7 separate regions of the Homo sapiens genome follow, and all the other regions are linked to region 2. The links come from fine-mapping of genetic effects on gene expression. A gene starts in region 2. Each other region holds a variant in brackets. All regions are shown on one strand. Distances are from middle to middle. Region 1 overlaps LINC01115 (long intergenic non-protein coding RNA 1115). Region 2 holds the start of SNTG2 (syntrophin gamma 2). Region 3 overlaps SNTG2 (syntrophin gamma 2). Region 4 overlaps SNTG2 (syntrophin gamma 2). Region 5 overlaps SNTG2 (syntrophin gamma 2). Region 6 overlaps SNTG2 (syntrophin gamma 2). Region 7 overlaps LOC105373480 (a long non-coding RNA gene).

Region 1 (4,067 bases), 89 kb after region 2:
CTCCTCTGCTGCAGTGGTCTCACACAGCCTGATCCACCTCTCTTCTCCACTGCAGTGGTCTCACACAGCCTGATCCACCTCTCCACTGCAGTGGTCTCACACAGCCTGATCCACCTCTCTCCTCTGCTGCAGTGATCTCGCATAAGCCTGGTCCACTTAGTGGTCTCGTGTAGCCTAGTGCACTTGACTGGCTTGGTCCAATTTCTCTTGAACAATGGGAAATTTCCAAAGGGTTTTGTGATGATTAACCCTGACCTGAGTAGGAATGGCTCTTATCCACATTTGCAGTAAAGGGACCTGATGCTCCCAGAGGTTAAATGAAGGCAAAGCTCAGGTTCATGACCTGGTGACCAGCTCTGCAACTGCCCTGAAACAGGGCAGGTAGCCCAGGTGAAGTGCAGTCATTTCTAAGATGAGGGAGTGGGGTTTGAAAGTTTGAAAGATCCTGTTTGTTGGCAAACCATCTGGCATGCCTGGAGCAGGAGCACCCTGGCCACCCCGAGCTCCTTTCTTGAGGCCTTTGATGGAGTTGGAGCTCTGAGATGCAGGAGCTGTGTTGTGTGGAAAAGTCGGAAGGTGGAGTTCCCTTCTGCTGTTGAACAACTGGGTCCTGGTGTCCGTAGGAGAGGAGAAAGGAAGCAAAGGGACAAGTGGCAGGAAGGAAAGAGAAGGTGGAGGGAGGAAGGAAGGAATCGAGGGAGGGAGGGAGGTGGAGGGCTGGGGAGGTGTGGGCCTCTGCACCTGCACTGTGTTGAGTTATATTCAACAGGTGTTTACTGAGACCCTGTCTCCCCAGGCACTCATCACCACTGAAGCATCCTTGGCCACCAGTGGCTGTGGTGGGGTGGGGACGCCTTTGCAGGCTGGATGCTCGAGGCCGCTGTCCCCCTGGGAGTGGACGTTGGGGGAGACTCCTCAGAGGATGTTCCCTTTGGCTGAAGCTTTGAGGGATAGATGGGGTGCAGACGGCAGAGTTACCTTATTCCCAAAGGGTACTGGGGACTTTGTGACAAACTCTACAGCAGAAGAAACATGGGGAGAACATCCAAAGAGAGTGGCATCGCTCCATCCCTGTATCGCTCGGGTGTTGAAACACGGAGAAGGGCTCTTCCTGGAGGCTGGGATGCCAGGTCATTGCCCACCTGAGTCGCACGCCCTTTTTATAAAACCCCGTTCAGTGGATCAGTGGAGCACAGTGACCACACCGCACTGCCTGTGCAGGAGCCGGCCTGAAAATGGCATCCTGGAAGAAAGAACACAGGAGACGCTTTCACATGGGGAGTGTGACTGCAGAGAACGAGGGTGCCGGTCCTGCTATCGGCATCAGGGGAGGCAGGTGCGGGCTGCAGCGCACTTCCTCCCACCATCAGCAACGCGAATGGTTTGATTTCTTTCCGTCTACACGTCTGTGGCTCTCAGCATCCTTGGGGATTTCAGAACGCATCCAGGGTTTCACACTTGGAGGAAAGCCCAGCATTTTCTCGTGGGTTTCCGTGCACCCGCTGTCTCGGCTGATGTCCTGGCCCTCATCAGTTATGTCAGCGTGTGGGTGAGACACACAGCTGCCTGCATGCCTGGCTTGGAGAGCATTTAAGTGTCTCAAACTCCCATTCAGTGCTTGGGATGTTGGAGGAGAGGAAACCTGAGAATCCAGGGAGCTGGCCCCTCAGTAACAGTGGGAAGAACACGCCCGGGGGTGGGAGAAGGGAGGTTCAGCAGCCGCCACTGCGAGGAGTGGAAGCCGAGAAGGGGGAGGCGTGGGGGGTGTGAAGGGGCTGATGTCTCGGAGAACTCTGGGAGGGGCTTGAGCACTC[G/A]AGTGGCACAATTCAAACCACACTTAACGTTCACTCACCTGGGTTCCTGCGCGCGTGTGTGTAGGAAACAGAGACCCTCAGGGAGGCTCCACCTGGTCCAGGTAGCTGTGAGGAGGGTGCCCTGGGCTGGTGGAGCCATGAGGCGGGCTGGATCGGGGGATTGTCTGAATGAAGCAGTCAATGGCACCTGCAGGTGGGGTGTGCAGGGAAAGTCGTATTTTTTTTTTTTTTTTTTTTTTTGCACCTGAGCGATTGGTCCCATGCTGGTGCCATTTGGAGACGCTTTTCCCAGGAAGGAGTGAGGTTTGTTGAGTTACAGGTGACAATCCAGGCTCCTCCAGCGTTCTGAGCGTGGCATAAAGATGCCGGTTTCTTTTACATGTGCATGTTAATTTCTATCGTTCAGGTTCTTCGTTGCTTCTCTCTCAAGAGAGCGCAGGAATGCACAGACATTCCTGTAAATGTTTGGACATGTGAGTGTACCAAGCTAGCGCAAATCTTTAAACAACTAATTTTGAGGGAAAATTTGAACAAAAACCTCACCAATCTGAAATTCAATGGGGGAAGTATTGAAAACTCTCTAATTGCATCTGAAATTTTGCCATATAAGTGATTGTTATGTGACCTGAGTAACAAAAAGGGAAATGGAAAACCATGTTTTCATTTCTGCCCTGAGGAATAAGGTGGGGGGCTGAGGAATAAGGTGGGGGCTGAGGAATAAGGTGGGGGCTGAGGAATAAGGTGGGGGCTGAGGAATAAGGTGGGGGCTGAGGAATAAGGTGGGGGCTGAGGAATAAGGGGGGGGCTGAGGAATAAGGGGGGGGCTGAGGAATAAGGTGGGGGCTGAGGAATAAGGTGGGGGCTGAGGAATGGGGGGGCTGAGGAATAAGGTGGGGGCTGAGGAATGGGGGGGCTGAGGAATAAGGTGGGGGGCTGAGGAATAAGGTGGGGGCTGAGGAATAAGGTGGGGGCTGAGGAATAAGGTGGGGGCTGAGGAATAAGGTGGGGGCTGAGGAATAAGGTGGGGGGCTGAGGAATAAGGTGGGGGCTCCAGTAACTGATGATGGGACTCTCAGAACCCCCACGTGCCCCCTTTTAGGGAAATGTTGTTTCTAATGGAATCTCAGGACTGTTGAAGTTTCTTGGGTCTCCTGTAACAGGTAAGGAAACAAGTCCCTAAGGGATGAGCACTCCGCAGGTGCTTGGGGATGCTTGGCGACGCCTGGTGGCACTGTGCGTCAGATGTGGTCAGTGGTCCCAGACACATCAATGAACAATCGTGCTCCTGCCCCAGAGCCGGGGGCTGGTGTGGAGGGGGCAGGTGAGCAGGGGACCTTGAGGGCCAGAGGAACGGTCCAGTGCCATGGAGGGGAGAGGGTGGAGGGTGTGGGTGGGGGTCCAGGGGAGAGGGTGGGTGCAGGCTGCAAAGGTGCAGTGCTGTGAAGGAGAGGCTTCTGGCAGAGACAGGCGCTGGGGAAGGCCGGCATTAGGGTGCAGTGTGGAGACAGCTCCTCCGGGAGGGAGGACGCCTTTCTAAAGGGGCAGCTCCTGGAACTTCACTTTGTACAAATGTTCAGTCAGTTCTGATGTCGAGGTTTTGGACTGCGAGACCTTCCAATGTTTCTCAACATTTAGATCCCTATTTTTTTTTCTTTGTAACAAGATTCTCATCTTATAAATTTTTCCCATTGATTTTGAAAACCCTCAACTATTTAGCTATTCCTGTTAGAATTGATATCAGGATTCCGTTACTCAGAGCTTCATTCCTGCAGCATTTTGAAAGAACATTCATGACAAAAAGCAATGGGTCAATACCTTTTTATTGTTTTGGGGAAAAGTGTTTCTTCATGAAGGTCCATGGCTCTCTCAGGATCCCTTAAAGGTGGCGTTTTGGGCGATTTTTCCTCTTGTTGGCACATTTCTAAGCCAGAGCAGCTGGAGGCAGCACAGTCCGTCCGGCTCCCGGTGAGGGAATAAACAGCCTGACTCAGGTGTAGGCCACAGGGGCAGTGAAATCACAGCCAGTGTAGACGGTGCGCTTAAAGATGTTATGTTGACTGTGCCTGTGCTGTGAGCGTTGGATTTTTAAATCCAGATAAAATTGAGTTTTTTTTTCTCTCCCAAATGTATGGGAATTCGATCCAACTCACAGTGGCAGTGGAAGGATCTCTTTTCAAATGCTTCTGTCTGTTTCACGGGAAGATATTTAAGTGGGAGATGACAGGCTCGTGGGCGCTTTGAGAGCTACACACT
Region 2 (4,067 bases):
ATGAACTCACTTAACTTAGAAAAAAACATCGGGAACAGGCACTTGAAAGGGGAAACAAAACAGGTCTGTTACCGAACAGGAGACCTTCAAACGTGGCCAAATTCCATGATTCAAACAAGCAGTCATGATAAAGAATGTGTATAGTTTTGACTTCAGATAGAAAAAATATAACTAGAAATATAAGATTTAGAAAAGACTTTCATCTTTTTCTAGTTAAAAGCACCAAGTTCTCTTAACTGAAATGATTAAATAATTACACAAGTTGAATAATATTGTGCAGTTATGGTAAGAAAATAATTCTGCCATTAAGTAAGGATGACATTGTATACTAAGAACATTCATGTTTTCAAGACAAACCTGCCAACACCAATACTTAACAGATTCGTTTTAAATACATAAGAATCTGAGCTAACATGACCATGCACTGGTGTCTAAGGTAGGCTTAGCACATACCTAATTACTTATGACTGCAAAGTTAGGAGTCTTGCTCTTAAAATGCTCCATCTTATTGTAATACTTGGCCTCCAACGCTAAAAAAAAAGTTTCTTTCAATACAATTCAGACAGGCTGTTTCAAATAATCAAGGTCCTTATTAGAAAGAAAGCGCCAATCACATCTTGTAGCAAACAGGTGAGCAGAGGCCACTCTTGACTGGAAAACATCAAATTTAGCACCTTAATTAATACTGAGCGCAAAGGAGAGCATTTACTAGAATACGCGCAGTTGCTTTATTTGTTGACGTTATTGCCAATAACTCATCAAGTGGGTCAATCATGAAGTATGATGAATCCACTTCAACGCTTCCGCTATAATTACAATGATTAAAAGCAAGAATTGCTTTGCTCGAATGTCTGGAGAAAAATGCACAATCCCTAACCGTGGGAGGGCATCATTATAAAGCTGAAGGCAGTGACCAGACGGAAAGCCTGTGATTCCACAGCGCCTGCAGTTTTTACTGCGGTTTATTTCCAGGTAATCCCCGCATATTTTCTCGGGTTTGATTACCATGGGCAACAGTGGGATAGCTATTCATATTACAAAGTACTTCAAGAAACGAACACCCACATTTTACATGAAATTTAATTTTCATATTTTGTAGTAAAAGCCCAGAAAGGTGCTACTTGAATGAAGATGCACCTGTCTCTACATAGAAATCTTTTTAACATCACAGTAGCGACGACCACAGTCCTAGTTTAGAATCATTATTATGACGATAGGAATTTGTAGCAGCCCTCAACCCGTGGCCTTCTGAACCGTCTCTCCACTGTCCTATAAGGGAGGGCTAACTGTATTCCTGGTCGCTCCTGGGACTGGGAGCTCCTGGGGAAGGAATCCTAAAGGAGTGGTTGTCAATGCATTTTCATTAACAGCCGCGCTTCTCGGCAGCCTCCTAGGGCTGGGGTGGCCACGTGCTCCCTTAAACTGTTTTCACAACTCGAGGCTGTGCTGTGGGTGGCAACTTGAAGGTTTCCAAGAACTTTTCGTTTTTCTTTGGGCCAACATTTCTGTTTTCTGTCAATCAATAGTTTAGTTATTTAAAAATAAGAAGGTGAAGAGGGAGTTATTTAGGGTGGGAACCAGAATAGACTTCAAAAAAGAAATCCGTATTACCCAGTTGGCGTCCCAGCGGTTCCCCGAATGGCCTAGAGCCCCCAGCACCTGCCGAGGCCGCGCCATGCACCTGGCTGGGCTCAAACTGGCCAACTCAGACCTGGCCTGGGCGCCCGAAGGCTGCAGGGGGGACGCTCCGGTCCGAGCCACCGCCTGGGCCCGAAAGAGCCGCTCCTGGGAAGCAATGCCGGGCCAATCTCAAATCCCAAATTCTGGAAAGCACTACTTCCCACGCAGTAAAGGGAAGCCCGGGCGCCTCAAAACCAAACCTTGGAAGACGCTGGAGGAGCAAAGCCTGCAAGTTTCCAGTAAGACACTGGGCTGGAGGGAGCAGAGCGGCCAGGGGGCGGGTGCCCACTGCGTCCCGGGGCTCCGGCGCCCACCCTCCGGCCAGCCGTCCCCGGAGACAGGGAAGGGGTCGCGGGGAGCGAGGGGGCGTGGAGGGAGGAGGGGCGGGGGGAGAAGGGCGCGAAGGAGAGGGAAGGGGGGCCGGAGGTGAAGGGGCGCTGAGGGGCCGCACTCACCCGCGCAGGTACCAGCAGGCAGCCCTGGCGTCCGCGGGAGGCGGCCGGGGGCGGGGGTCCCTCGGTGCCCATCGCCGCCCCTGCGGCTGGGTCCGCGCTCCGGGCCGGCCGAGCTCAACGCCAGGACCCCGTCCGAGCCTCCCAGGGCCCCGCCAGGCGCCGCGTCCGCGCCCGCGCCCCTCTGCCGGCTCCGGCTCGGGCTCCACCGGGGCGCAGGGCTGGGGAACCGGAGCTCCGCCCGCCGACCCGGAGCACCGCCCACGCAGACCCGCCCCGGGCGAGGGAGGGGCCGGGCGCGCACCCGCGGGGAGGGCGGCGAGCGGGGATCAGCCGAAGTCGGGAGAGGGGCGCTTCCACGGGGCGGGAAACTGGCGCGCGACTCTGGGGGAAGTGCAGGATGGGGGGACAGGGGCGCTCCCGCGGGGGTGGATGGGGGACCATAGCGGGGCTGGCGGGGCAGGGGCCGGCGCACGAGGCTGGAGGAGGGGAGCGCGCGCTTCTACCCGGGCTGGGTCGCCGAGGTCCGCGGCGCATCGTGGCGGCGGTGGGCGGAGGGGGGCGGGGGGCACCTCTTCTCCCTTGTGGCGCAGGTGGGCGCGCTCTGGACCGGCTTGACGACCCCTCCCCGCCGCCCCACCTCCCTGGCCAAAGGTTCTCAGCTTCTAATCAGGGACATTTCTAGTCCACAGCCTCGAAGCCATGGGTTCTCCCCGGCCCTCTGAAGCCGCCACACCTGTGCCAGCCGGCCGCGTCCTCAGACCTTTCCCCGCGGAGTCTTCCCAGCACTTGGAGACGCAGCGCAGGGCCCCGAGGACGGCCTGGCCCGGAGAAAAGATACCGAAGCTCCAACTTTCCCCAACCCCGCTCCCCTCCTCCTTCCACCCTCCCTTCCCGCCCCCAAAGCTCGGGGGTCCTATCCCTCCTCCGGTCCGCGGAGTCTCCCGAACCCTGCGGGGACCCGGCGCTCGGCGGTGCCCTCCTGGGGCGCACGGGGCTGGGGCGGGAGCGAGGAGACCAGGTGGGGAGGGGACCCCAGATCTCAGACGCCAGGGGAGACGGCGTTTCCCGCTGTTCATTCAGGTTTGTGCCAAAAGGAGCCTCACAGATGCAGTATTGGGTTTGGTAGACTCAAATCGTCTTGTTTTAATGTAAATGAAAGTAAGTTTAGGATAAATTCCAGTGCGGCGGGGGCAGGCAAGGCTACCCACATTTTTTAAAAAGAAGCCAGCCCGTATTTTTCTCCCTTTCCAAATCCTCCGCCCCCCAGTCCTTCGACCCAGGCACGAGCGCCCATCGCGGAGGCCACGATGCCCGTTTTATTCCCTCTCCACGGCAAGGAAAAGCAGCGAAATCTGAGGTCTTCAGAGGTTAACCCTATCTAGGAGCAGAATGTGACGCATTGTAAACAAATAAATATTGAAAACTCGATGTTAAACACTTTACTTTTTCTGACTCCGACTTGCTTGACCCCTGAGCAGACCTGGGTTTCGAACACAGACGCCCTTCCCCATTTCTCTATTCTCTGTATTCCTGTTTCACCTTCACGGCAGTCTGCCAGCACTTCTTAGCACTCAGTTTAACCAGAGGACAAGCTCTTGAATAGCAAAAACCAGGTCTTTTTATACGTGGCACAGTGGCTGTTACAAAATATGCTTCTTGGGTGAATTGGTAAAAAATATTGTATTACTTTTTATTTGTAGCAAAACCTAGAATAAGAAAAAGTACAAGAGATTATTGTTTGCCTTTAAATTGCATTTTTAAAAGAGCGTGCATATAATCTCTGAGAAATTAAATGTCTACAAATAGCACAAAGATATTGTCTCATTACCTTGCAAAGGGACATTCTATTCCAGGGCCTGAAGAAGGAAAAACAGCGTGTTGCATGCATAAATGTTGACTTTGAGAGACAAGTTTTTGTTAAAATTTTATCGT
Region 3 (4,067 bases), 100 kb before region 2:
AACAAAAACAAAAACAAAACAAAAAAAGCCATCACCCTGGCAATATTTTTAACTTCTAAAATGGCTAATTTTCATCTCATGTATTTCAAATGCTTAATAGTAGACCCTAATTACAATTACATTATTCTGTTTTACTTTCTTCATTTTCCCAATTTAGATTTTTCATTTGAAAATGTACCTCTTTGAAAATCCAAAAATACATCAACATTAACTTCAGATAATATTAACAAGTGATATTCTGATCCAAGGTCTGGGGAAAAGACTTCATTAGCATGGGGCTTAATTATGCTATTGCTGTGTACCCTGGGGTGTCTCAGGAATGTGTCACCTCCAGGGGGTCCCAGAATCACCAAGGCGGCTCTGTGGGGTTCACAGGGATATTACTGAGACCTTCTCTAACATCTCTAGCCATGTAGGACTGCATCCTAAACCTGCTAGGAAGAGTGACAAAACCACAGTAGGAGCTTGGGATTTCCTTTCAGGAATCCTTCAAACTCAGTCAAATAGAGAGCCATACTGAAAATCCCCGAAGCCCTCTACGTAAACCCCTCATTAGAGTTAGATAATTAAAAATGCTAGATCCTAGAAGAATTAACCAATTCCTTGGCACGAAGAAGAGTGAACTCCTGGTGCCGTGAAGATGCTCCAGCCACAGCCCAGGTGTGGGCCGCCTCTCTTGGGTGGGAACGGCTGAGGTCTGACGCTTAGGGATGCAGGAGAAAGGGCCAATTTCCACCACCTGACAAGGTGGCAGAACACCCCCGAGCCGCACCACGGGAAACAACCAAAGGTTCAGGTCCGCCCGTCTGAATCAGGGTGGCAATGACACGGGTCCGCAGTGCCCCAGCAGACATGTGCAGGTGGCAGGCGTGGTGCCTGTCATGCTGGTGCAGCACTTAGAGGGCTGCACAAACAACAAGGCCAAGACATGCAGGTTAAATCCCTGTAATCCTGCACCTCACAGGGCCTGCAGAGGGAGGAGGGAACACGAGGTCTCCCACTCATATGGAAGCAAGAGGGGGGCGGGAGGGAGGAGAGGAGGGGACAAAGGGAGGGAGGGAGGAAGGGAGAAGAGGAGGTGAGAAGGAGGGACCATGGAAACAGAATTACCTGAAAGGGAGTCATCAGCTCAGAAAAGAATGGAGGAAAGGATAAGGAAGGTGAATGCAGGTTAAAGTAATCAGAATCAATGCCACAATAAAATGCAATAAAGTCAAATGAAAACAATCAAGAACCAGAGTCACCACATGGAGGCCTAACTGCATCACACAAATGAGGTGGGAAATGATGATGTGGAGAGGACGACAGAGATGGATGCCAAATGAACACGACCTGGATACCTAGCATGTAACTCATGTTTCCAAAGTGGAAAACAATAAAAAGGCATAGAAATAATACTCCTGGAAACAATTACGTCTCCGTGAAACTGACATCTGCCATCAAGGAGACACAACTTAGCTGCAAAGGGCTGGGGGGGTGGGGGGGGATGGAGTGATACTGATCAACAGTCAACACCAGAACACATCCTCCTGGAGTAGCTAGATTTTAAGAATAAAGAAACAACAAAATTATATGTTATTAAAGTTTTCAGTAATGTAAAATTGATATTTTTGCCAAAATAACTTTCATCTTCAATAAAAAAAACTTTTAATGCATTTCTAGAATCATAGCATATAATGAAAAACTCAGGAATTAAAAATAAGCCTGCTTACCTACATTTTAGAAGCATGAACAAATCAGCATTGCACTGATCTGAAAAGCACAGTGAAGGAATGGAAGCTGACTGATGTCTGTTGAACACTGTGCTCAGCAACAGCAGAACACCCTCCTTCCTACGTGGACAAAACGCAGGGTCATAAAGAAAACCTCAAAAATCTCAAAGGACTGAAGTCAGAGTATGTTATTTTCACATATGTGGCAATGGAAAACTACCAGAAAAAGATAACAGAAAATCTCC[G/T]CTCCTGAAAAGTTTAGCAACATACTCACAAATCACCACAGATCCAGGAGGGGACTCGCAGTGGAAACTGGAACGTGTTTTGAACAGATTGTGAGCTTACGACTTTCAAAACCTGTGAAGTGCAGCTGCAACTGAATAACTTACAGCTGGAATGCATGCAGAAACTAAAGGTGAAAATCAGCGACCTCATCCCAGGGTAGGCCACCCAGCATTCAGGTCCACCGCCTGTGTCTGTAAATCAAGTTTTATTGGAACACAGCCACGGCCCTTCACCTGCTTCCACGAAAGGATGGCAGAATTGTCTATAAAGGACGACATGGCCAGTGATCCTAAGGTACCATGTGGCTTTCAAAACACTTTAGAGACCTCTGATTTCAGTTTCCAAAAGCAAAGCAAGAAAAAGGAAAGAGAATAAAGGAAATAAGAGCAGAAATACATGAAACAGAAGACAAATCAACTAATGAACAAAGCCAAAGAACAGTTCTCTGGAAGAAGTGAGAAATAAGGAGAGAACACACAGAAGCAGCCAGATGAGGAAAGGGGGAAGCCACTATGAGTCCCGCAGATATGAAAAGCACACAAGAAAATAGCAAGAATGTTTTACCTTACAGTTTGTGATTTGTGTACAAAGGATGAACTCTTTAAAACATGCAATTTGCTAAAACAGATATAATATTAAATAAAAATATAAATATTCCTGTACGTAACTTAAAAGTTGAACTTAGTATTAAAATTATTTCACAAAGTAAGCTCTGGGCCCAGTGAATTCCTCTAAATATTTCATAAATAACATGGATACTATACAAACTTTTCCACAGAATAGAAAAACAATGACTACCAGTAAACTCATTTATACAACCAACCTAAGCTGCAGACCAGAACCTAACAAGAAGGTTATAATAAAGTAAAATTACTTATCAATTACCCCCATGAATATAAATAAAAAAAATCCTAAATAAAATATTATGAAATCTAATCCAAAAAATATAAAAAGCAAAATACTTTTAAAGCAACTACAATAAAAAATGTAAGGGTAGTTTACCATTTGAAAATCAGCGTAATTCATAACATGGAAGAGTTCTCTAATGTTGTGTAATAAAATATCCAACAACCAACAGCCTCTGAATGTCAGGATTCTGTGAGAGCCCAGCTGAGTGCTTCTGGCTCCGGGTCCTGCAGAGACTGCAGCCCAGCTGCTGGGGGTGCTGCCGTCTTTGAAGGCTCAGGTGTGGCCAGCAGATCTGCTTCCAGATCGCTCCTGTGGTGGCTGCCGGAGGCTTTAGTGTTTTGCCACGTGGGCCTCTCCAATGATAGTTCACAACATGGCATATACTGGAAAGAATGATCCAGGAGGAAAAATGCTTGCCCCCAGCACAGAAACTGCAGACTTTATAGCCCAGTATCAGGAATGGCAGATCATCAGATATGCCATACACCATGACAACAGAAGCTGCCCCGAGTACAAATCAGATGGGTTGCACAGGGGAGTGAATACCAGGTGCCTTCCTCCAGGCTGGCAACCATACCATATGAGCAAAGAACTTATATGATCATTGATTAATCTCAAAAAAGTGTTGACAAATGTTGTTACCTAAAGCCTTTTAATAAGAGAGCTTCCATAACTGGTTAGAGACGTCTACAAAAGACTTACAGCACATGTCATACTCAGCGTAAAGCTTGAAAATTCCTGAGAAAAGGAATGAGCAAAGGGTGCTCAACAGCACCACTTCAATACGGCATGGTACTGCAGCTCCCAGCCAATACAATCATAAAGCAAACAGGAAGGAAGGGAGGAAGGGAGGAAGGGAGGAAAGGAAGGAGGGAGGGAGGAAGAAAGGGGGAGAGGGAGGGAGGAAGGAAATGTGTAAACATTGAAAAAATAAAACCAGCATTTTTCATAGATGATATTATTGAGCATGGAGATAATCCAAAAGTATCTACGCATGTGATATGAAAACAGATAAGCAATTAATCTTTGAAATTAATAAAAATATCAGTTTATTATGTCAATATTTTTAGTGTCTCAACATATCAGCAACAAAAAATAGTTGAAATAAAAACATGCAATTTACAGTAGCATTAAACATATCTAGAAATAAATCTAATGAAA
Region 4 (4,067 bases), 170 kb before region 2:
TCAGCCAGGCCCAGGAAGTTAAACACTGCATGTTCTCACTCATATGCGGAAGCTGGTCTCATAGAACTAAGGAGTAGAATAGAGGTTACTAGATGTTGGGAAGGGGAGGAGGTAAGAGAGATGTGGAGAGATTTTTTTAAGGATACACAGTTACAGCTAGATAGGAGGAATACTTCTAGTGTTCTATAGCACTGTAGAATAATGATAGTTAGCAATAATATATTGTTTATTTTCAAATGGCTAGAAGAGAGCATATTGAATATTCCCAACACAAAGAAATAATAAATGTTGGAGATGATGAATATGATAATTATCCTGATCTGAGCACTATAAATTGTATGTATTGAAGCATCATTATGTACCCCATAAATATGTACAATTATGTGTTAATTAAAAAAAACACAGCTTCACCCTATCCCTGTACACCACACCCTACTGTCTACTTCTGTCATTCATTCTATCATCATATCCTGTTCTGAAATTTACTAACTGATCTAATGTGTTACTTTTTGCCCCAAGAGAGAAAAAGTTTCTCAATTGAGAATAAATTAAGCAAAACACACATCAAAATTAAAACAGCTGACATGTATTTACTGTAAATCTTTAATTGTAAATCTTTAAGAAAAGTAGCATGTCCATCTAAAGTATGCTTTCCTTCTGTGATTTATATTTACAATAACTCATCTTAGAAAACAATTCTGTTTTGGAGGTATGGTAGTTATTAAGGGTTTTGAATGACTAACACCAAGATATTAGAAGAAAGCAGCAAACTTCAAACCTAAGGATACAAATAAAAATATGCACAAATGCATGGGTGCTTTGAAGGCAAAGGAAGGGAGGGAGAGGGAAGAAGCAAGAGGAGGACAGGAGGAAGGGACAGAGGAGAGGAAAACTCAGCTTCCTGTTACACACTCTTGATTTAAAAAAGGACAAAAAATCTCTACTTTGATAATAAAGTTCATAAATGAAGAAATGAAGTTTTAATATTATGAAATAAATATGCTATGCAAGAAATCTCTCGAGCAGCCAGACTTTAGTAGCTATTTATAGTAACTGAATATTTAGCGTATTAAAATGAAGACTTTTAAATAAAAAGTTTTATTTAACATAATTTGAAGGTTAATGCTGGTGTTGATTCAAATTGTGAATGTCCTGTGGGTGTCCAGTAGATTTTTGTTACTATTAATAATAACAGTATGTCTAAGGCATACAAAAAGATGTTATAGATAGTAAAATGGTTACTATAGTGAAGCAAATTAACATATCCATCATCTCACCTGATTACCCATATTTTTGTTTTGTTTTGTTTTGTGTGTGTCAAGAGCAGCTAAAATGTAGCAGGAATCCCCAACACGGTATGATTGTGTGACCTTCAGTCCTCATGCTGAGCACTGGACCTCTCAACTCGCTCGCCTACTTGTGCACGGCTTTGCATCCTCTGACCTCCAGCTCCTCATTCCTCCCCACCACCATCTCCTCACTTCTGGTGACCACTGTATTATTCTCCTTCTCTGCGTGTTTGACCTTTTCGTCAGGTTCCACCCATAAGTGAGGTCATGTGGTATTTCCCTTTAATGTCTGGCTTGTTTCCCCTGGCATAGCGTCCTCCAGGTTCAACCCTGTTGTGACAAAGGGCAGGACCTCCTCCTTCTTTAAGACTGAGTAGGCCGGGCGCGGTGGCTCACGCCTGTAATCCCAGCATTTTGGGAGGCTAAGGTGGGAGGATCATGAGGTCAAGAGATCGAGACCATCCTGGTTAACACAATGAAACCCCGTCTCTACTAAAAATACAAAAAAAATTAGCCGGGCGTGGTGGCGAGCACCTGTAGTCCCAGCTACTCAGGAGGCTGAGGCAGGAGAATGGCATGAACCTGGGAAGCAGAGCTTGTAGTGAGCTGAGATCGCACCACTGCACTCCAGCCTGGGCAACAAAGCAAGCCTCTGTCTGAGAAAAATTAAAAAAAGACTGAGTAATATTCCACCCTATATATTTTCAAATTGTAATTGACAATTTATAATCATATAAACTTACAGGGTAAAAATAATGTTATGATTTATGAATGCAATATGGGATAATGAAAGCAAGCTGGTTAACATATCTATGACCTCAAATACTTCACATGTTTTTATAATGAAAACAAGATAATTTTCTTAGCAATTCTGAAATGTACAATAATCTATTAAAAAGCTATCTTTGCCACACTGTGCAATAGAACTTAAAAAAAATTCTTCCTGCACAACTGAGAGTCTGTGCCCTCTGACCGTCATCTCCCCATTCTCCAATCCCCAGCTTCTGTGACCATCATTCTACTCTCTG[C/T]TTCCATGAGTTCAATTGTTTTAGATTCCACATATAAGTGAGAGCATGTGGCGCTTGTCTTTCTGTATCTGCCTTGCCCATTTTTAATTGGTTTACTTGTTCTATTAACCTGAATGAATTCTTCATAAATTTTGAATATTAACCTCTTATCAGATACATGTTTTGCAAATATACTTTCCCAATCCATAGGCTGCTGGTCTTGTTTGCTGTGCAGGAACTTCAGTTTGATGTAGTCCAATTTATCTATTTGTGCTTTTGTAGTCTGAGGTTGTGGTGTGACAGCCAAGAAATTATTGCCAAGGCCAATATCAACGAGCTCTTCTCCAACGTTCTCTTCTAGGAGTTTTATGGCTTCTGATCTTACAGTTAAGACTTTCATCCATTTTTGGTAGGTTTCCTATACGGTGTAAGACAAGAGTCCAATTTCACTCTTTCACATGTGGAAGTCCAGTTTTCCCAGCAACATTTATTGAAAAGACTATACATTCTCCATTGTATCCTCCTGATGCCCTTAGTCCAAAATTAGTTGAGCATGTACGTTTAGTTTTACTTCTGGGCTTTCTATTCTGCTCCACTGGTGTAGGTGTCTGTTTTTTATACCAACACCATACTGTTTTGATTACTATAGTAATATAATCTAAATCAGAAAGTGTGATGCCTCCAACTTTTTTTTTCTTAGAACTGTTTGGCCATTCAGGGTCTTTTGTGATTCCATATGAATATTTGAATTGTTTTTTCTGTTTCTGTGAAAAATGTCATTGGGATTTTGATAAGGATTACACTGAATCTATATATAACTTTGGCTCATAGATATTTTAGCAATATTAATTATGATGAGCCCAGACATGAGCCCAAAATATCTTTCCATTTATTGGTATCTTCTTCAATGTTTTGAATTGTCTTCATCAATATTTTACAGTTTTCATTGTATAGGTCTTTTATCTCCTTGGTTATACTTATTGCTAAATATTTTATTTTTTTCTGATGCTTGCATTAATAAATGGGATTGTTTTGATTTCTTTTTCAGCTATTATTTGTGTATGACAATGCTATTAATTTTTGCATATGAATTTCATATCCTGAAACTTTACTGAATTATTGGTTCTAACAGTTTTTCTGTGGAATCTTTGGGGTTTTTACAAATAGAATCATGCCATCTGCAAATAGATAACTTTACTTCTTCCTTTCTTATTCGGATGCCTTTTTTTTTTTTTTTTTTTTGTCTGATTGCTAATTGCAAGTACTTCCAGTGTCATGTTGAATAAAATCGGCAAGACTGGGCATCCTTGTCTTGCAGAGGATCTTAATGTTAAAGCGTTTGTTCATATTGATTATAATGCTAGCTAGGAATTTTTCATAAATAGCTTTATTGTGAACATGCTGTCTATACCTGAACTGGTGAGATTTTTTATCATAGATATTGGGCTTTGTCAAATGATTTTTCTGCATCAGTCTGTTAATGTGATGTGTCACATTGGTTAATCTGAAAATGTTAAACTGGCCTCACATGCCATGGATGAATCCTACTTGGTCATGACATGTAATCTTTCTAATGTGCTGTTGGACTTGGCTTGCTAAAGTCATTATGAGAATGTTTCTGTCATTTGTTCATCAGAAAAATTGGCCTGTAGTTTTCATTGTTAGTGACATCTTTGTTCAGCTTAGGTGTCACGGTGATGCTGGCTTTTAAAAATGTATACATAATTATTCCCTCTAGATTTATTTGTTGAAAGAGTTTGAGAAGTATTCA
Region 5 (4,067 bases), 34 kb before region 2:
AAAAAATGTTCCACTTGCTAAGAAAGCAATCTTGCCTAGACATTTCACAGAATCTCCGATAGTCTTTAAGGAGGTAGAGGCTATTAAATACAATGTGAGCATCAGGCTCAGCCACTGGTATGCCGATCCTTCTTAGGGGATCCTGAGCTGTCCAGAAGGTTCCAAATGTGTCTTATCTGAAATCTTCCCTTTTTAACTAACCATGACAACCTCATTCACAACATCTGTCCATTCCTACATGGGAAGTCCTATTTAGGTAAATCAGCATTATCTGTTAGTCTAGTTCAACTCACGTCAAGGGGCATTTTTTCAAATGTTAAAAATGAAAACAGAAACCTGATTCCAGGTGAGATTTTCTCTTCTCTAAAGGGTAAAGTTACCTTTGTCATTGCATCCCAAACAACCCTGGTAGAGCGTGTGAGAAGGAGGTCTGGGAGGCCACCCCAGGGGCCACAACTCTGCTCAGGCCATGAGAGTACAGGGGCCATCCCGGCCATGTCCCCAAATGAGCTGCCTGTGCTCAGTGCTTCCCCAGCCCCCCATGCAAGACTGTGTGAAAGGAAAATTGATACTCAGCACATGGGAAATCCTCTGATCTCTCTCTCTCTCTCTCTCTCTCTCTCTCTCTCTCTCTCTCTATTATTTGCAGGGAATGTATTTTTCCCTGTAAATAGTAAAAAGAAATAAATAAAATACAAATCCCTCTCCCCTCTTCCTTTCTGAGCTTTGCTTCTCAGAAAAATAAAATAAAAATAGGTTGGGTCTCCAAACACAGTACTTTTCTTCCACATATTGTCTCTTTCTTGTCCATGAAACTGTGATAACACTTGGCTGTCTCAATATTAATCATTCTTGCAATAAAATTAAAGTTAAGAGGATTCACGTGATAAAGGAGAAACATTTACGCCAACTGAAAGCAGCTAGGATAAAAAGCCAACCAGCGTCGGCTTCCTTTAGGTGAAACTGCTCTCAGACGGTCCTATCAGAAGACGGGTTACTTACCAACTTGTGTAGGCAAGAATACCATAAAATCAACCACAGAGAATGCTAGATTTCTGACTGAAGGCCTGAGATATCAGTTTACCAGCATCTGTTTCTCTCTGAAAATTATCCTGTGCATATCCCCCAAAGTTAAAAAGCAAAATGGCCTTGGTTTGAGGATTAGATCCTCCCAGGGTGTCTCTGCCTGGCCCAGCAGAGGGGGAGCTGGGGAGCTGCAGGCCCTCTTATTCCTAGCAGGGCCCCTCAGCTTAATTTGAGGGTCTGGTTTTTCCACTTCCTAGGAAAGAAAAAAGACACATCCCTGAGCTCACACAAACCCTTCTATTTTAGAGGAAGAAAATATCTTAATTACAGAAGTTGCTCTAGCATGAAACGTTTTCTCACCAGTTTCTAAATTTGCCAAAAAAAAAAATCAACTTGTCTTTCTGTTTAATGGCTGCAGGCACATGCATTTCCGTCGCTTTTCTTTGATGGAACCCGATATAAATTCAGCAGGAAAAGCTCTTCCTGGAGGGGAGTCCGTGCTGTTTTCTTTAGGAGGGAGTGGCGTGTGGTCTGCAGAAGCCACATTATGTCTAAGAATGAGAGTGATATATATTTGCTTTTCAGGCAACACTTGATGATCGGATTTTGTCTTCACAAATTGAGGTGATTGTTTTTGGGGAAAAAAATGGACATATAATATGCTTCTGCACAGAAAAACTCCCCCAGCAAATTGTGCAGCCTAGAACTGTCTTTTCTAGTGTTACTGAAGAAAACTATGTAAAAGAAACAAATAGGTTCATGTCAATCCTTGTTAAATTCTGATTGATAATAAAACTTCTACTGTGCCCCAATAAAATAAGCATTAGACTTGAAGACCTAAGGTCTGGGTTCAGGAACTGAGAAGTGGGTGCTTCCCTCCCCGTGGAGCTGACGCAGCACCTGGACGTCTGTTACCCTCGTCTTCCCCGCTGAGAACACACTGACTTCTTTAGCACTGTCCTGAGTCACGGAGCTAAGGCAGTGCCCTCATGGAGGCCGCTGATGATGGCAGGATGTGCCAAGTGAAGGAGCAATTTCAGGACGGCAGGGCCACAGCTGACCTCATGGCGCTCAGGACAGACAGGTGAGGCCACAGAGTGGGGAACCAGAAGCAGTCAGAGTGCACCAAAGGGACCAGGGAGGACGAGAGGGGATGGGAGAGGGTAGATGGCATTTAGCAGAGAGCAAGGAAGCACCGAGTATCTTCTACCCAGCAAACAGCACAGAGCTCCTGCTTGGACCGTGGAGAAATGAGTGAAATGAAAAAGCCTCATGCTGGAAGATTTGAGCCTCCTTCCCTTGGTAGAAGAAACACGCACTTCCCATTTCCATCACCAACCAGAGAGGAGATTTTGCCCTTTGTTTTCATTTTATCTTAATTAACTGCATGA[A/G]AGTGTGCTATTAAAAAAAAAAAAAAAAAGCTTTGTTTCTTTTGGGTAAAAGTGGGAAGGCTGTTCGAAATAAGTGAGGCTTATTTTTCTTCTCCAAAAGTGCATCTGGTTTGTACAAGAACCCCAGGGTAAAGTGTGATTCAATAGCGTCACCTCTGCAATGCCAAGCAGCCGAGGGATGTGTGGCTCACAGAGCTCCTGCCACCTGGCCCCTCAGCAATGGGGCAGCTTGGTGCCACCGCCCCTCTCTGCAGCCCTTCAACAAAGGGGTGTGCCCACAGCTCTTTCAGACACAGTCTGGCCTCCTCTTGACACTGACCCTCAGGGACACAGGGACACAGACATCTCAGAGGCCATGCTGTGTGGAGCCCGACTTCTCCCAAGTGGCAATGGCCAGGTGAGTTCTGCACCCACCTCTGCCCTCTGAACACCCTCATCCCTCCTCCCATTCCTCAGTGATTCTCCAGGCTCCATGGTGGAGGGTGCCCACAAGTGAGAAGTATGTCTTGATCTTTTAATCTCCCTCTACTCAATATATTCTGGACCAATTTCTAAGAAAACTGGTACCTACAACACTTTAAATCCAACCAGGGACATGAATCAAGACTGAAGGTCAGCGTACACTTAGGAGCTCAGAGTTCATCCTGGGGCAACGGGAGCCACTGAGTGCAGAACAGGAGAAGGGCAGGTGGGCTGGAGGCTGCAAACACGATTCTGGCCCCAGGGCGGAGAGTGACTATTTCGGAGGGTTAGATCTGGGACACCTGCTTCGCAGCCCCCCTGAAAGTCATGCAGGAGGCACCAAGTTGGGCAGGAAGGGTGGGAGGCAGCACCTGATTAAATCAGAGCGTGATGATAGATGGGGCAGCCTGACCACCACCTCTGCAGCTTCTGCTAAAGAGCCTCTGCTTCATCCCGACCTCCACCTCTGCAACTTCTTCATCCCGACTTCCACCTCTGCAGCTTCTTCATCCTGACCACCACCTCCGCAGCTTCTATGGAAGAGAGCCTCTGCTTCATCCCAACCTCCACCTCTGCAACTTCTTCATCCCAACCTCCACCTCTGCAGCTTCTGCATCCTGACCACCACCTCTGCAGCTTCTGCTAAAAAGCCTCTGCTTCATCACGACCTCCACCTCCGCAGCTTCTTCATCCTGACCACCACTTCCACAACTTCTACAGAAGAGAGCCTCTGCTTCATCCCAACCTCCACCTCTGCAACTTCTTCATCCTGACACCACCTCTGCAGCTTCTTCATCCTGACATCACCTCTGCAGCTTCTTCATCCTGACCACCACCCCTGCAGCTTCTGCTTCATCCTGACCACTACCTCCGCAGCTTCTATGGAAGAGAGCCTCTGCTTCATCCTGACCATTTGTTGCACAGATTCCCCCTCCTTGGGATGGGGTTTTAGTGTCTCACAGTTTCCTCCAGGCACAGTCTCTGCACCTTGGGACTTCCATTCTAGGCGAGGCTCAGTTACAAAGTGACCAAGTCCACAATCAGTGTTGAATGAGGGCCACGGTCAATACTAACCCGAGGTGCTGAGTGAGCACAAGAGAAGAGATAGCTGCCCAGGCACAGTGACAGGGGCCCTGCCCACGGGAGTCCTGTCCACGCTGCTTCTTTCAGAAACCCACTGCATGCACG
Region 6 (4,067 bases), 260 kb before region 2:
CAGGCCAATATCCTTGATGAACATACGTGCAAACATCTTCATCAAAATACTAGTTACCTGAATTCAATAGCACATTAAAAAGATCAGTCACCATGATCAAGTGGGATTCATGCCTTGGATGCAAGCATGGTTCAACACATGCAAAATCAATAAATCTAATTCACCATATTAACAAAATGAAAGACAAAAACCATAACATTGTAGCAATAGATGCAGAAAAACATTTGACAAAATTCATTATCCTTTCATCATCAAAGCTCTCAACAAATTAGGTATGAAGGGAATGTACTTCAACACAATAAAGAACACGTGTGACAAGCCCACGTCTAATATCATACTTAATGATGAAAAGCTGAAAGGTTTTCCCTTAAAATCCAGAACAAGATAAATATGTGCACTCTCACCACATCTATACAACATAGTACTGGAAGTGCTAACAAGAACAATTATGAAAAAGAAATAAAACACATCTAAATAGAAAAGGAAGAAGTGAAATTGTCTCTGTTTGCTGATGACATAAGCTTATATATAGAAAACTCTAAAGACTCAAAAAAACTGTTAGACTTAATAAAGGAATTTAGAAAATTTGCAGGATACAAAACAACACTCAGAAATCAGTAGTATTTTGTTCACTAACAATGAACTATACAAAAAAGAAATTAATAAAACAATCCCATTTACAGTAGTATAAAAATATAAAATACCTAGGAGTAAATTTAACGAAAGAGATGAAAGATCTGTACAATGAAAAATATACATTGATAAAGGAAATTATAGATGACACACAAAAATGGAAAGATATCCTGCATTCATGGATTGGAAGAGTTAATGTTGTTTAGATACCATACTACTTAAAATGATATACAAAATTCTATGAAGTCTCTATCAAATTCCAATGATATTTTTCAAAGAAATAGAAAACACAATCCTAAAATGTATATGGAACCATAAAACACTCTGAATATCCAAACTATCTTGAGCATAAAAAGCAAAGATGGAGGCATCACACTACCTGATTTCAAAACATATTATAAAGCTATAATAATCAAAACAGCAAGGCACAAGCATAAACACAGGTACATTGGCCAATGGAACAGAATAAAAAGCCAGAAATAAACCCACAGATCTATGGTCAATTGATTTCAACAAAAGTGCCAGGAACATATCATGAGGAAATGACAGTCTCTTCCATATATGGTGTTCAGAGAACTGGATATCCACATGTGGGAGAATGAAACCAGAAGCTTATCTCACACCATATGCAAAAATCAAAATGGATTAAGGAGTTAAATGTAAGACCTGAAACTATAAAACTACTAAAAGAAAACATAGGGAAAAGCTCCACGACTTTTATTTGGTTAATGATTTCTTGAATATGACCCAAAAGCACAGGTGACAGAAGAAACAATATCTTTGTGAGGTTTGCATGTTTGCTCTGTGTCTGTCTGCATGGGTTTTTCTAAGCACTCTGGTTTCCTCCCCACAAAGACATGCAGGTAAGGTTAATTGCTGTGTCCAAATGGTCCCAGGCTGAGTGGCTGTGGGCATGTGTGAGCCATCCTGCAGTGGGATGGCATCCTGTCCAGGGCTGTTGCCCAGCTTGAGCCCTGAGCTTCCAGCACAGACTCCAGTCTCCCCAACCCTGAATGAAATAATTGGGCAAATAATTATCTTACTTGTTTTTATTAATCTTTCTTAAATGTATGCAAAGCTCATATTTATTTCAATGTTTAATATTTGAAGTGTTTTGGTCTTTATTTAGAAGTTTGGTGATATTTTGTGACCAAAAATATGCTGTAAGAATCTAACTCTTATTTATAGCTATTAGCCTATGGGAAAATTGGTTTCTTTATACATCTTTTCACTCCAAGTTGCAGTTTCTGAGGACCAATCAATGATGTTAAGTGAGTAAGTACTGTATTGTATATTTCAAAATTGCTAAAAGAGTAGATTTTAAATATTTTCACTACAAAAATGCTAAGCATGTGATGTTACTGACATGCCAAGTAGCTTGATTTAATTATTCCA[T/C]AATGCAAACATGTATTGAAACATAACATTGTACATTAATTATATATGATTATTATTTGTCAATTTTTAGAAAGGACCCAGAAGGTAGTGGTTATAGATTGAGGTCCTATACTTGGACAAGGACAGAGTCAGAGGGGACACCCACAGGATGCTGGCTTCCAACCTCTTCATCCTATTTATGTTTCCATTATATGATATCTAAAGGTTCCTCCTGGGCTACAGCTTACAGCTTTTGTTTTAAGATTCTAAAACCTGTTTGATTTAGAATTGACAATTTCTAAACTTATTCCTTACCCTCCTTAGACTGAGGAGCCCTCAGGAGAAGATACACAGGAATTTTAGAACTCCATCCACTGGGATCAACACACCCAAGTCTCTTCTCTTTTTCATCCATTTAAAATGAGACCTGAGGAGCTTACAGGTAAGGTGGAGCTAAGAACAGCATCTCAGCCTCTAAATGGGACTTTGCACAAATATGTTTCAGAACAAACAGGTTTTATAAAATTCATAGCTTAAGCCCTTATGCGTTTTATTATTTGCCCTTTCCTGCCCATACTAAATCTTGCTTAAAAATCATAAAACAGTCAGCAAGCTAGTAAGACATATTTGCCTTTATAAAACAAAATATTCTTGTCTTATGAAAAATTATAAACCTTTCAGTTTGCTGTTACAGTGTGTATTGGTCCGTTCTTGCACTGCTGTAAAGAAATACCTGAGAATGGGTAATTTATAAAGAAAAGAGGCTTAACCAGCTCACAGTTCTGTAGTCTACATAGGAAGCATGGCAGCTTCTGCTTCTAGGAAAGCCTCAGGAAACTTCCAATCATGGTGGAAGGCAGAAGGTGAGCGAGACACCTTACATGGTAGGAGCAGGAGCAAGAGAAAGAGAGAGAGTGGGGAGGTGCCACACAGTTTTAAATGACCAGATATCAGGAGAACCCACTCACTGTCAGAAGCACAGCACCAAGGGAGATTTTGCTAACCCATTCATGAGAATCTGCCCCATGATCTAATCCCACCAGGCCCCACCTCCAACACTGGGGAATACATTTCCACATGAGGTTTGGGTGGGGACACAGATCCAAACCAAATCAGTGTGTGATAGCTTTTGTAACAGAAACAATCTGAGGCTCAGGCAGTCGGCTGACTTCTTGGGTTCCATTTCATTCTCCTGGATGTCATGTATTTATCCCAATGATTGTGGTATGAATGGCTTAGTGGGTCAAAATATTTTGTCACCAAGAATAACACATGTGTTTCTACATGTTCTCAAGCTGCCAGAATGGGTTATCAAGTCTGCATTTAGTTAAGAATTACTAGTGATATGGTTTGGTTGTACTCTTGCCCAAATCTCATCTTGAATTGTAGCTCCCATAATTCCCACGTGTCATGGGAGGGACCTGGTGGGAGGTAATTGAATCATGGGGGTGGGTTTTTTCCATGCTGTTCTCATGGTAGTGAATAAGAATCACGAGATCTGATGGTTTTATAAAGGGCAGTTTCCCTGCACACATGCTCTTCCCTGCCGCCATGTAAGACATGCCTTTGCTCCTCCTTTGCCTTCTGACATGATTGTGAGGCCTCCCCAGTCATGTAGAACTGTGAGTCCATTAAACCTCTTTTTCTTTATAAATTACCCAGTCTCAGGTTTTTCTACACAGTAGTATGAAAATGGACTAATACAAGTAGAGACCCTATCCTGTCCTCAGAGTAGGAGACATTTCCATCTTATGACCTGAATTCATCCTTAAACCAAAGCTAGAACAGCCAATCTTCATCACATTCAATGGCAGATGGGCTAGGAAGTGTGTAATGAAGTTCAGTGGCTCTATTTTTCTAAAAACCCATTTAATTCAAATACGCTAATAGACAAATGTCATTTCATGCACTATTTCCCTCTTTGTCAAGAGAGATACATGCCCAGATCTCTACTTTGTTCCCAAATTAACCCCAAACCAAAGAAACATGTTGTAAGAAAGCCACAAGCACACACTTTAAAAGGAATTCACAGTTAGAGCACGAACTGTTAAAACATTCTG
Region 7 (4,067 bases), 180 kb after region 2:
GCTGGGTGGGTGAGCCAGGCTGGGGGACAATGTGTCTGCTGGGTGGGGCTCCATTCTAGGGGTCACAGGGTGCCTGCTGTGGGGAGGCAGGATGGGGGCCAGTGTGTCTGCTGGGTGGGGGCACCAGACTGGGGGACAGTGTGTCTGCTGGGTGGGGCTTCAAGCTGGGGGACAGTGTTCCTGCTCGGGGGGCAGCCTGGGGGACAGTGTGTCTGCTGGGTGCCAGGCTGGGGGTCACAGGGTGCCTGCTGGGTGGGGGCACCAGGCTGGGGGACAATGTGTCTGCTGGGTGGGGCACCAGGCTGGGGGACAGCGTGCCTGCTGGGTGGGGGCACCAGACTGTGGGACAGTGTGTCTGCTGGGTGGGGCTTCAAGCTGGCAGAGAGTGTTCCTGCTTGGGGGGCAGGCTGGGGGACGGCGTGTCTGCTGGGTGGGGCATCAGGCTGGGGGACAGTGCCTGCTGGGTGGGGTTCCATTCTGAGGGTCACAGGGTGCCTGCTGGGGGGAAACAGGATGGGAGCCAGTGTGTCTGCTGGGTGGGGGCACCAGACTGGGGGAGAGGATGCCTGCTAGGTGGGGGCGCCAGGCCTGGGGGACAGGGTACCTGCTGGGGGGGCACTGGCACCAGGCTGTGGGCATGGGAGCCCGTGTTCACACCAGGTACACGCCTCACGCTCCACCAGCAGTTGGCCCTCTTCACATGTGTTTCTTCCTTCAAAAGACAATTATTAACTAAAGTGCTGGAGATAAGAGGTGAGCCAGACACCCCAAGACCCATCCTTTCATGCAAGTGTGGTGTGGACAAACCCCAACGAAACTCTCAGAGTGACAATGAGCACAGGCAGCAGGAACATCCAAGGCTGCACACAGTCTCCTCGGACAGAAGCCCTTGGAAGCCACACATTTGTCTAATTAAGAGGATGACATTGTTGTCTTTAACCCAACAGTGCGGGAGCACAGAAGCTGCCTGTTTGTGCACTGACTGTGTGAGCACGTGTGTGCTGCAGCCGGGGATTTTCACTTGGATGCTCCCTCAGCAGTTTCCTCCAAGGTACTCAGATGCATTCACCATTTAAGAAAATGATTTTTTTCTACATTTTTTCATAAGTGAAGGAAATTCCACATAGGGCCTGAGCTGATGGTTAACACAGTTCTAATCACCATGCGTGGTTGACCTGGGACGGGCCACATCTTTCTCAGATGTTGACACCGTTCACTCATTTAGTGCTCTTACCACCATCTCTGAAGTAACACGGTGCCCTTTTTGGGCTGATAAAACTCAAACAGAAGATGTACTCTGCCCAGGATCACAGACGGTAATAACAGAGTCAGGAATTCAACCTCTTCTGGAATTAAAAACCTGTGGTTCTTCTGGTTATATTTTAGATCAAAGTAAGCAGCGTTGGAGGCCTGAAATGCAGCGACTGACCACGGTCTCACAGATCCCACACCATCAGCCCCTCTTCTCTTAAGGACCGTGATATACAAAGAGTGGGGTTTTAGGGAATGTCACTCCTAAAGTGTCCATTCAGCTTTTAGAGATATTTGCCCCCACACGGGTTAATGAAGTCAAATGGCATAAATTAGCTGCCCGGAGCCTTGGCCGGCCCACACTGCGGTGGGAACCTGAGGCAGCACCCGGTCCCACAGCACCAGCTGGTGTCCTGGGTGGTCACCCTCCATTGTCCAGACCCAGCTCCTGGGCCCCCGCTCTGAATTTCCTTGCTGTGTCCCGTTTACGCCTTTCTTCCCTCCTGCTTTTCTTCTTAATTCAGTGCCGGGTCCAGGGCATTGCTGTCCTTTGGGAAATGGGGTGGTTTATGCTCTAGGGTTCCATGAACTGCTTCTCACCTGTTGTTGGTGGCCGTGTCTCAGGGCCTTGGATAAAATGCAGAGTCCTCGAATTCACGTGCTATTTCTCGCCGGTTTCTCTTCAAATGATTCTTTCCCTGCCATTTTCCATATATTCTGTGTATACATCCTAACACGTGAAATTCCAGAATTTACCCTCCGTCTCAGACACTCTTTAACTTTCACACACCATCTCGTTTTCTAGTCAGACTTCCAGAAACAAATTGGTGTTGACCTACCATTAAATTAAATATCTAAATAGCAGACCCACAATTTTCATGGATAATTTCATATGAGACTATTAAATAGTTAAATTAATTCAGTTTAAAGATGAATATTGGATAACTAGGAATATGCCAGGTGTACAAGGAAGACAACGTTGTGAAGATCCTTAAATGCTGAAGGCCTGACAGTTGCTGAGCAGCAGGCACCTCTCTGAGCTGGCTCATGGTCTGGGTCTCCAGAAAAGCCACCCTGACCCTGCGGCCTCAGAGGTGATCTCCCCAGCCTACCCCGAGCGAAGCAGCTCTGGTGGGCTCACTTGCATGGCTGGCTGCACTCACCCTCACTGGTGAATCCGACACC[G/A]GGTCACCTGTCCACCCAGGAGCCCGTGTGGCTGTGGAGCCGGGCTGGGCGTTATGCTCACTTGCACGGCTGGCTGCACTCACCCTCACTGGTGACTCTGACACCAGGTCACCTGTCTACCCAGGAGCCCGTGTGGCTGTGGAGCCGGGCTGGGCGTTATGCTCAGAGCAGCCTGTGTAGGGCTGCTTTGACTTCTCAGGAGGTCATTGGTCAACTTTCCCATGCACTGTTGATGGAGGGTCTGTGTCGCGTCAGCTGCTGAGCTGGGCTCCATCCTCGGTATGTTAGAGAGCAACACGGAGAAGCTGCCCTGTGTGGATTTGAGAAGACACTACCCTGAATAGATAGGCACAGCAGGAGATGCATGAGAAATAGACTTTGGAGTCCATTCTTGGAAAGGGTATTTAATCCCCACCTCTTTTTCCCATGGATGAGAATGGGTCCCGCCCTGGAGTCCTGGGAAGGGCAGAACACAGGACCCTGGGCTCTGGGCAGATGGACAGACAGCAGGTTATTAATCACAGCCCTGGGCAGGAGCACTGCAGACCACCTGAGGGTGCCTCGGGAGCCGTGTGAAGAGACAGGGCCTCGGGAGGCAGGCTTGGTAGTAACAAGACGGGGAGGCAATGCCTGGCTCCTGAAGAATGATGGAATTGACTGACTTGAACAGTTTTGCCAGCCGGCCAGGAGCTGAATGAGGCTCTCTGCTCAGGTGGAGCTGGTGCCTGGTCCCTGGGAGGAGGGGGGCATTTGTCTATGGGGTCTCACCCAAGGGAGCAGAGTGTGGAGGGGACAGTGGCAAGGTCATTTGGGGCCTCTTGATTTCCCCTGATGCCAAAGCTCACATAATATTGAACCTTAATCTTAGATCTTAGAAAACCATGTGACTGAAGCCTTGGGGGCTAGCTGAGTTCTCCAGGGAATGAATGGAGTTGGCCTGTGCACAGCACAGATGTACACTGTGCAGGTCCCTTACATGTCTGTTTTCTACCTGCTCCACCACCTCTGAATCAGCCATACTGACCTCTCCTCTCCCACAGCACAGATGTATGCTGAGCAGGTCCCTTACACACCTGTTTCTACCTGCTCTACCACCTCTGAAACAGCCACATTGACCCCTCTTCTCCCCCCTCCTCCTCAGCCTGCTCAACAGGAAGACAAGAATGAAGACCTTTATATGGTCTACCTCCACTTAATGAATGGTGAATGTACTTTCTCTTCCTTATGGTTTCCTGAATATCATTTTCTTTTCTCCACCTTCCTTCTTTGGGAGAATACAGTAGATAATGCATAGAACATAGAAAATATGTCTTCATCAGCTTTTTATGTTGTCAGTAAGACTTTGGTCAACAGTAGGCTATTCATAGTTACATTTTGGGGAAACAAAAAGTTATATGTGGATTTTCAACTGTGTGAAGGCTCAGCACCCCTAAGCCCCAAGTTATTCAAGGGTCAACAGTATAATTATCATCCCAAGAGTTTTTGGAAGTTTCACAACTTTAGCCTATCTGATATCTGTGGAGCCCCTCTGTTCCAGACTGGAGCTCTAGATATTGTGGGGGAGAAAGTGTGCTCTTTGTTATTTTATAAAAGGTACTCAGAGAAGATCTCATGCAAAAGATGTTATTGGG

The links. PIP is the estimated chance that this variant, and not a neighbour inherited with it, causes the effect. A credible set is the group of variants that fine-mapping cannot tell apart.
Region 1: its variant is the best candidate, but not a certain one, in a credible set for the expression of SNTG2 in nucleus accumbens (GTEx, PIP 0.82).
Region 3: its variant is the best candidate, but not a certain one, in a credible set for the expression of SNTG2 in visceral fat (GTEx, PIP 0.90).
Region 4: its variant is the best candidate, but not a certain one, in a credible set for the expression of SNTG2 in whole blood (TOPMed, PIP 0.85).
Region 5: its variant is the best candidate, but not a certain one, in a credible set for the expression of SNTG2 in whole blood (TOPMed, PIP 0.88).
Region 6: its variant is the best candidate, but not a certain one, in a credible set for the expression of SNTG2 in prefrontal cortex (CommonMind, PIP 0.69).
Region 7: its variant is the best candidate, but not a certain one, in a credible set for the expression of SNTG2 in tibial nerve (GTEx, PIP 0.72).

The regions. Positions count from the first base shown.
Region 1 is chr2:859,682-863,748 of GRCh38, reverse strand. The region is part of intron 1 of LINC01115 (long intergenic non-protein coding RNA 1115); the gene reads left to right. Among named protein-coding and RNA genes, the nearest start is that of LINC01115, 6.7 kb to the left of the region's middle. The variant G/A (reference allele first, on the strand shown) is at 1,815.
Region 2 is chr2:949,137-953,203 of GRCh38, reverse strand. SNTG2 (syntrophin gamma 2) reads right to left here and starts at 2,355. Exons shown (of 17, transcript NM_018968.4): 1 at 2,136-2,355. The coding sequence starts at 2,207. SNTG2-AS1 (SNTG2 antisense RNA 1) reads left to right here and starts at 1,812. Exons shown (of 3, transcript NR_136151.1): 1 at 1,812-1,919; 2 at 2,818-3,293; 3 at 3,403-3,570. RefSeq lists a silencer at 2,317-2,446.
Region 3 is chr2:1,050,889-1,054,955 of GRCh38, reverse strand. All of the region lies in intron 1 of SNTG2 (syntrophin gamma 2), which reads right to left. Among named protein-coding and RNA genes, the nearest start is that of SNTG2-AS1, 100 kb to the right of the region's middle. The variant G/T (reference allele first, on the strand shown) is at 1,958.
Region 4 is chr2:1,122,194-1,126,260 of GRCh38, reverse strand. All of the region lies in intron 4 of SNTG2 (syntrophin gamma 2), which reads right to left. Among named protein-coding and RNA genes, the nearest start is that of SNTG2-AS1, 170 kb to the right of the region's middle. The variant C/T (reference allele first, on the strand shown) is at 2,318.
Region 5 is chr2:982,639-986,705 of GRCh38, reverse strand. All of the region lies in intron 1 of SNTG2 (syntrophin gamma 2), which reads right to left. Among named protein-coding and RNA genes, the nearest start is that of SNTG2-AS1, 33 kb to the right of the region's middle. The variant A/G (reference allele first, on the strand shown) is at 2,418.
Region 6 is chr2:1,211,121-1,215,187 of GRCh38, reverse strand. All of the region lies in intron 9 of SNTG2 (syntrophin gamma 2), which reads right to left. Among named protein-coding and RNA genes, the nearest start is that of TPO, 200 kb to the left of the region's middle. The variant T/C (reference allele first, on the strand shown) is at 2,029.
Region 7 is chr2:770,140-774,206 of GRCh38, reverse strand. All of the region lies in intron 3 of LOC105373480 (a long non-coding RNA gene), which reads right to left. Among named protein-coding and RNA genes, the nearest start is that of TMEM18, 95 kb to the right of the region's middle. The variant G/A (reference allele first, on the strand shown) is at 2,437.